2 separate regions of the Homo sapiens genome follow, and region 2 is linked to region 1. The links come from fine-mapping of genetic effects on gene expression. A gene starts in region 1. The other region holds a variant in brackets. All regions are shown on one strand. Distances are between the middles of the regions. Region 1 holds the start of MRPL22 (mitochondrial ribosomal protein L22). Region 2 has its middle 10 kb from the start of KIF4B.

The links. PIP is the estimated chance that this variant, and not a neighbour inherited with it, causes the effect.
Region 2: its variant is the best candidate, but not a certain one, in a credible set for the expression of MRPL22 in coronary artery (GTEx, PIP 0.79).

Annotation. Positions count from the first base shown.
Region 1 is chr5:154,938,733-154,943,128 of GRCh38, forward strand. MRPL22 (mitochondrial ribosomal protein L22) reads left to right here and starts at 2,341. Exons shown (of 7, transcript NM_014180.4): 1 at 2,341-2,406; 2 at 2,485-2,533. The coding sequence starts at 2,379. RefSeq lists an enhancer at 2,281-2,440.
Region 2 is chr5:155,021,728-155,026,123 of GRCh38, forward strand. No RefSeq gene overlaps it. Among named protein-coding and RNA genes, the nearest start is that of KIF4B, 10 kb to the left of the region's middle. RefSeq lists an enhancer at 2,442-2,736. The variant A/C (reference allele first, on the strand shown) is at 2,109.

The sequences.
Region 1 (4,396 bases):
AAAATAAAATAATAAAATAAGCCGGGTGTGGTGGCAGGCGCCTGTAATCCCAGCTGCTCGGGAGGCTGAGGCAGGAGAATCGCTTGAACCCGGGAGGCGGAAGTTGCTGTGAGCGGAGATCACGCCACTGCACTCTAGCCTGGCCACACAGCGAGACTCCATCTCAAAAAAAAAAAAAAAGTAAAATGCAACAATCCCTAGACAACAAATACTAGGGAGGCTGAGGCAGGAGAATCGCTTGAACCTGGGAGGCGGAAGTTGCAGTGAGCAGAGATTGCGCCACTGCACTCCAGCCTGGGCGACATTGCGAGACTCCATCTCAAATAAAAACAAAACAAAACAAAAAAAGATATGCACAAGAGGCCACTTAACAAAAATATTGTTGTACCTGAGTGAGTTAGAGAAAACGCCACACTTTGAGACGAATTAAGAGTCCATTTGTTTAGCCGGTGGCCAAGAGATGGCTAACGCTCAAAGTTCTCTCAGCCGGAAGAAGAGGCTAGATTTTCTTTTATACTTTGGTTTAGAAAGGGGAGGGGAGTCTAGTTAAAACAATTTTACAGAAATAAAGTAGGCAAAAAGTTAAAAGGATAAATGGTTACAGGAAAGTAAACAGTTCCAGGTGCAGGGGCTTTAAGACTATTTATTACAAGGTGATAGACTGGGGGCTTTGGGTGCTATCAATCAGACGAATTCCTGGGAATTGCGGATATTGCTCGCCACAGTATCTTATCAGTTAATTGCATCTTGGATGTGCTGGGAGTCAGCTTGCACAAGTTAAGTTCTTGAGGAAGGGGCTGCCAGTGAAAGAGCCAAGATGGAGTCTGTCTGGCTCTCTTAGCTAAGCAAGAGTCAATTCAAGTGGAAACAAGGCTAGGTGATCAGAGGAAAAAGGGAGAGTCTAAAAACAGGGTTAGTAAAAACAAGGTTGGGCATTACAATATGGAGTCCGGGAGACAGGCTGGTGTGAGCTGTGATCGAGCCACTGCACTCAAGCCTGGGCAATAGAGTGAGACCCTGTCTCAAAAAAACAAAACAAACAAAAATATGAAAGTACGAATCTGGAATTAAAAAGGGAAAGAACAGTTTCTGCAACTGGGTGGAAATTCTGGCTCTGGGTTCTGGGTACTCAAAGATGAAGGAGAAGCAAATGGAGTGACTCTTGATTTGCTTGATTGAGGGCCAGCTGTGTGAAGGAAGCTGTATGTGGTAAATGGTGTGGAAGAAAGTTTCCTTTCAACTCAAAAATGCTAAAATGCTCAGATTCTGCACTACTCGTGTGTTGCTTGTTTGCATTGGGTATCTGACATTCCTGCATAGGTAGCAAACCGCAATCTGAACTACCTGTTATTCTAATACAGAGGGGTCAAATACATATATTTGAAGGCGTCTAGGGGCACAAATTTGGAGGCACCTAGTCGTAGATTGATCACTGGTTTGCCAGTTGTTAGTTGAGAGACTTTAACATATCCTAAATATGTTTCCTCATTTGAAGAAGGAAAATGATAATCCATGCCTTGTTGGATTGCTGTGAGGAATAAATGAGATTTAGTGAAATACCTGCCTGACATAAGGCAGTAAATGCCAGATGAATATAAACTCATTCTTGAAGGTCAACCAGATTAGTAGGGATTAGGACAGCATACATCATATTTGAACTATTTGCTCTTTAAAAGAGATTTTAGGCTAGGTTTCGTGGCTCATACCTCTAATCCTAGCACTTTGGGAGGCCGAGGAGGGCAGATTGCTTGAGCCCAGGAATTCGAGATCAGCCTGGGCAATTTGGGGAAACTCCTTATCTATAAAAAATACAAAAATTAGCCGGGCGTGGTGATGTGCGCCTGTAGTCACAGCTACTTGGGAGGCTGAGGTAAGAGGGTGGCTTGAGCCCGGGGTCGAGGCTGCAGTGAGACTAGGTCATTGCTACCACACTCCAGCCTAAGCGAGAGAGAGACCCTGTTTCAATAAAATGAAATAAAATAGCTTTCACACTATTTCAACTGATCTTTACAACAAGCTTGTGCCCTAAGGTTAGTCATTTCTGATAAGAAAACTGAGGACCACCGGATTAGGTGGCTTGTTCACGGATTCTGTTCCCCTACTCCTTTCTAGTTTGTGAGTTGGGACTTTAGTTTTTCTGAATCCAGGTGAATTTTCGGAAGCCCACGTGCTTTCGGCCTTTATTAATTAATTCATTCCCAAGCCAGGTTCGCCTGACCACACCTCGAGCGCCGGCCCAGTGCTTGCGATCTTCGTGACGGCACCTGGGGTGTAAGTACTGCTTGTGGGAGAGCCCCACAGGAAATCCAGAGTATTGCGCATGCGTGCTGTCCAGAAGGCGCTTGAACTCGGCGGCTTCCGTAGCGGGAGGGCGAAAGATGGCGGCGGCAGTACTGGGACAGTTGGGTAAGGATTTCTTAGTGGTTAAGCGACAGAAGGGAGTCGAGATGGAATCTGAGTTGACGGCTTGTGTTGATGTTGCAGGTGCGTTATGGATACATAACCTGAGGAGCCGGGGGAAGCTGGCCTTGGGGTGAGTCTCTCGCTTCGGAGTTTCGGAAGGGCCCAAGGCATCTTTAGTATTCTGCCAGTTGGTAACTGAGCGCCTCCGTGCCTAACTGTGTTTTAGGCTCTGGGGTTACTGAGGCGAATGAGACAGCCCGAGTCTCTGCTTTGTCACTCTATTTTTTCTCCACCTTATTGCATAAACTGTACAGGGATCAGGATTACCCATAACCCAAGGGCGATTGTAAATGCGATTTCCGAACGTCTACTGTGATCTTTCTGGACAAGGTTAGACTATTCCATCTCCATATGGAAGCGTCCAACTTTTCAAGTTACCTCTCTGATTACTTGCTTACATGGGCAGGGACCGTGTTGTGGACAACTCTGCTTTACGTCGTACCTGACATTGTGTTTAGCGGTTTATATGCTTTAACTCACTCTCATAACATTCTACGAGTAGGTTCTGCTATACCCGTTTTTCAGACAAGGAAATTGAAGTCCCCAAACGTAAAATAACTTGCCTAAGGCCACTCAGTTGTAGGAAATTTTGAAGCTTTATACCAGAGCATTCTGTAGCCTTAGGACAAAAGCATTCATTAAAGGTTAGGGTAAGTAGTCGCTGTATTTCTCCCCAAAATAAAAAATCGGTATTTGAAAATTGATAATCTGATTGTAAATTTTCTGGTCTGTCCATTTGTTAGCATTGATTTTGGTTTAGTTCATAGGCTTTGCAGACAGATGAGTTGTATATGAATCCATTTTTTAACTGTGATCTTGGAAAAGTTACTTATTCTTAATAAGCTTCAGTTATCACTTTTATGATATGAGCGTTATGTTAGTACCTATCTCTTAGGATTTAAAAAATTTTTTAATTTTTATTTATTTATTTTTTTAGATGAAGTGTTGCTATGTTGCCCATGCTGGTCTCAAACTTAAGGGCTGAAACAATTCTCTTGCCTCAGCCTCCTGAAGTACTGGGATTACAGGCACATGCCATCTATGTAGCTCTAGTAGATTTTAAAAAGGAAATTCAAACAAGATAATGCATATGAAGTATTTAGTATGTTTATGGCATGTGATAATCCCACTCTGAATTCTAGTTGCCATTAATGTTTTTATTATTATAAATTATTACTGAGTTCCCAATTATATTTAACCCTTTTCTAAGTTTTTGGGTCCGAGGGGGATAAAGAGGTGGGCTAAAGAAGAAAATAGGAAGTAGTAGCTCTTAGGATTTGTCTGTACTCTTCTTAGATAATCTTCTATCACTCTTCCCCCAACCATGCTGATTTACTTACTTTTTCTGAATATACTTTGCACTTACTTGCTTCTTGGCTTTTCCTACTATGCCCTCACATCTTGTCTATAACAGCAGTCCTACCCATTATTCAAACCTCTGTTCAGATGTTTTCCCTTCAGGAAGTTTTCACTGGTTTCTCTAAAACGGAAAGAAATTAGTTTTTCCTTCCTTTTAGCATGTGTGCCTTCTATGATGACTTCATGTATATGTGTATGTGCCCTTTACTAGCTTGTGTATCTTGGAGAAGTAGGGACATTTATTTATTGTTGTACCTCCAGCATAAGGTCTTACACAGGCAAGTATTTTGATGTTGATTTGAATTGTCTTGCACCAACTTGTATTAAGAAGCTCTGAGCAAGAAACTTAAGCAGTTTGCCTTTAGTCTTTTCCTCTATGTCATGATACAAGAGTGTTTGATTTTGCTAGATAATCTCTAAGGCTATTTGCAATTCTGAAGTTATTACATAATTTTGTGAATCCTTATTTTGGATTTTCTAGTGGGGAAAATGACCATAAGAAAACTAAGTAGAAAGGTATAAATAATGTTCATGATAACCATGTAAAATTTTAGCATATAATCTGATTCAGTGA
Region 2 (4,396 bases), 83 kb after region 1:
CAAAGAAGAAATTCATTAAAGGATATAAGAGGCTTACAGAATCTCAGGGAAGGCCAGAGATGAAGTCTGAGGCTATTCATTTAGAAACCAAGCCCAAATCACACTGTGGGGTCACTACAATGAGGACAACACTATTGCTCAGCATACATATGGTGCTATCACTGATCATGTGAGGGACTGGACCACAGAAGCTGTGCTACTACGGCCTCCTAAATCTCAATACTTTCATTACTTCAGTCATTAAAATATGGATTTGGCATAGTGTCTGCCTTCTCATGTGATTCATTTCCAAACTGAAGTCTCACATATGTCTGACTGGTAGAGCTAGATCACGTGCTTAAATCTGAGCAGCAAGGGAGCCTGGGAAAGTGAGTTCTGGCTTCTTTCTTGGAGAAGATCGACTTATAACATGTTCACAAGATATTAGATGGTTAAAATGTCTATAACATATTATGACATTACTCGTCTCACATAGCAGCTATCTGCAATTAAAAGGAGAGTGAAAACACGTTGATCAGGCACTGTCTCTTTCTTTCTTGTAAAATTAAAAACAAAACAAAACAAAAAATGTTTAGAAAGGGAGGAGAAATATCCCTAATTTTGGCAGGCCCTAAAAGAGATTGTATGAATTTACTTGAGTTATTTGTATGAAGTTTTAAACATCTACCTATTCATCTTCCTGTTCTGTAGCTAAGCTAGCATGCTAATAGCACTGTAGTATTAAAGAAGCTTTTGTGATCGGCCTGGGAACCATCACTACTTGTAACATTGTGCCAGGAACAGAGACAGCAGCAACATCCTGGACGAGACTTTCCACTTTGTGATTGATACTTTCTGCTAAAGCCCTAGTCATGCTGACTGGAAGCTATCTTGGCAGGATAAAAGGTCATCACTGGCATTAAGGATCTCTTTAGGTTTCAATAAACAGAATCCATTCAAGATAACTTACCCTAAAGAAGGACATTTATTATAAGGATACAGAGCTATCTCCTGGAATGCAAGGGTAGGAAGTTCAACCTGGCCCCATGAGGGACTAAGCCAGGACTCTGAAAACCCTCAGAAACTAATGGAAAGTGTGTCTGTCTATCTGTCTGTCTGTCTGTCTGTCCCAGCATCTTTTGCATGATTTGTCATCTCTGCTTCTCTCTAAACATCTGCTTCATTCTTTTCCTCTGTACAGACTGATGTCCTCTGCTTTTACGTATATGGCAGAAAATGGCTACTTCATTCAGTCCTTACATGTCCTTTCTGTTCAAGAGCCAACAAAGGCAAATGGACATTTCCAAGTCTTGACTCCAAATGCCTGGGACAGAGAATGCCTGTACTGGGTTGAATAGTGTATCCCCAAAATGTATGGTCTACTTGGAACCTCAGAATGTGACCTTATTTGGAAATAGGGTCTTCACAGGTGTAATTTATTAAGATGAGGTCATACTGGATTAGTGTGGGCCCTAATCCAATGACTGAGGTCTTTATAGGACGACAGGCATAGGAGAGAATGCTGTGTGAAGATAGAGGAAAAGATTGGAGTTACCCTTCCACAAGTCAAAGGATGCCAAGGATTACCAGGAACTACCAGAAGCTAGGAGAGAAGAGTGGAACAAATTTTCCTTTGGGCTTGCCATAGAAACCAATCCTGCCAACACCTTGATTTCAGATTTTCATCCTCTGGAACTGTAAGAGAATAAATTGCCGTTGTTTCAAGCCACCCAGTCGTTGTCATTTGTTATGGCAGCCCTGGGAAACAGAGAGAGTTTCTTTGGCCCAACTGGGTCCAATGTCCACCTTGTGCATTCACCTGGTTTAGCTATGGCCAGGGTGGAGGGGTCGAGCCAGACACTGTGCAGAAGAATCTCTAAGAAGGGGATGTAGAAGGAGCAGGCAAATTGATGAACAGATATAATAATTTTTTTTGTGCTTCCTTATAACCAGAGGTGTCTGTGGGTACCTAGCAGTGATCAGAGGGAACAGCAGGACCCTAGATATAGTTCCTAATCATTAGTACTTTAAGAACAACTTACCTCTTGCTATTTGTGAAATGGGATTGCAAAGATACCTTGCAAAGATACCTGATTCTGATGGCCTTGTCACTGTCTTTGACCAATAGA[A/C]TGCAAAAGAGATAGGTGTCTGTTCTAAACCTAAGTCGTTTTTTTTTCTTTTTTTGACAGGGTCTGGCTCGGTCGCCCCCTCCCACCTCAGCTTCCCAAGCAGCTGAGACTACAGGAGTGTGCCACCATGCCCAGCTAATTTTTATACTTGTTGTAGAGATGCAGTTTTGCCATGTTGCCCAGGCTGGTCTCAAACTCCTGAGCTCAAGCAATCTGCTAGCCTCAGACTCCCAAAGTGCTGAGATTACAGGCGTGAGCCACCCCGCCTGGCCTTCTAAGCCTACGTCTTTAAGCATTGCGTGCTTTCACTTCTTCTCTTGGAACCTCGCTGTTGTCATGTAAAAAACCTCAGCCTGTTGCATGATTAAAGGGATGTGACCCAGTTACTTCCTTTGCCCCAGTGACCAGTCAGCCAATGACCAACATGTTAGTGAGGTCACCCTAGACCAACCAGGTGACTGCAAACACATGAGCAAGCCCAGTGAAGATCAGCTGAGTCAGGACCAGGTCAACACAACCACCTAGCTGACCCATAGACTCCTGAGCAATATTAAAGGTTGAGTTACTACATCTTAGAGTAATTTGTTATGCTGTGACAGATAACTGATACAGGGAGATTGACAATCTGGATTTTGGTAAGCCAGATATTAGAAAAGTAAGGATAATTCATTCATAAATAAAAATAATTCCTAGGTTTCATGTTAATAGCTGTATCAACTTGGGCAAGTTGTTTCAATTTCCTCATCTGATAACTGAAGTTAACAAAGTAGATTCTTTGGGGTGGGTTATTGGGCAGAGCAAATGGGAGAAAGTATGGGGCAGCACGTTATAAAACAGCAGGTTGGCATCATTTCTCTATACTCTGTCCTTTCTTTATTATTAAGGTTGGTACAAAAGTGATTGTGGTTTTTGCCATTGAAAGTAATGACAAAAACCACAATCACTTTTGCAGCAACCTAATAAGACATGAATAACTTTAGGAAATAATGGCATGGGTGTGTTTTATAAAGTTGAAAGCAACTTGATTTTTACCATGACCTAGGAGACCTTACGTGATCTGGCTGCTCAGTTCTCTTACTTTCCTACCTCTCTCTGTGTCCAGATCAGGGGTGTCCTCTCTGTTCCTCACACATGCCACATGCCTTCCCACATGAGAACGTTTGTACCTGCAGTTCCCTCCACCTGCGATAATATTCCCACCTCTCTCTCTCTCTCTGTTTATGTGAACCACAATTCGGGAACAGTATACTTATAATGCAAATAGGATCATGTGAAGTAGCACTCTTAGTAATTAATGTATGTTCTCTATTTTGAGTCAGAGCAACCCAAAAGATAAGTAAGGAAAAAAAAAAAACCCTTTGTCTTCTCCTATAGAGTCCCTTTAATTCACGAATCAGAATCTTGAGCAACCCGGGAGAAGCATTGTGAGTTTCATGAGAGCTGGTCAGGGGGCCTTCAGAAAAGATTGTTTCCCAGTCATTATTCTCTCTTTCTTTCCCCCCTCTCTTGCTTTACTGAGATAATTTTACATCATAAAATTTAACTGTTTTCAATGTACTATTCAATAATCTTTTTCGTGTATTTACAGAGTTATACAACCACCATCACAATCCAATTCTATCATCCCCAAAAGAAACCCCATACTCGTTTACAGTCACTCTCCATATCACCCCCAGCTCCAGGCAACCACTAATCTACTTTCTATGTCTATATATTTGTTTTTCTGGATGTTTTCTAGAAATGGAATTATACAAAGGCACACCTCTTTTAATGGCCTTCTTGCCTTATTCTTTGCATCTCAGCTGAAATGTTACCTCCTCTTTCCTTAAACTTCACTGTTATTCTGCGTGTCATCTCCTCATTGTTTTTTGGTAGAACTTATGCAATTTGTAATTATTTTATTTGTTTCTTTACTTGCTTCTGCCTGCCTATGCTACTAGAATATACTTTTTCTGAGGGCAGGGGCAATTTCTGTTTTACATTCTACTGTGTCCCAAGACCTACTTAGTGCCAGATGCAGAGTGGATGGATGTCCGGTAAATATTTGCTGGTTGAAAAAAGTTTTTAAAAAGTACTGGGGCAGCAGGATGGTGGAATAAGAGGCCCTAGACTCTCCTTTCCCCCAACAAATACACTGATTCAACAACAATTCATGGACAAATTCCCTTTGTGAGAAATACAGAAACTAGTTGAGAGGCTCTTTCACCCTGGGTGAGTGCAAAACTTGACACATCAAAGCCAGTAGGAAAATTTGACGCCCTCTCACCTCAACCCTTACCCCTGGCACA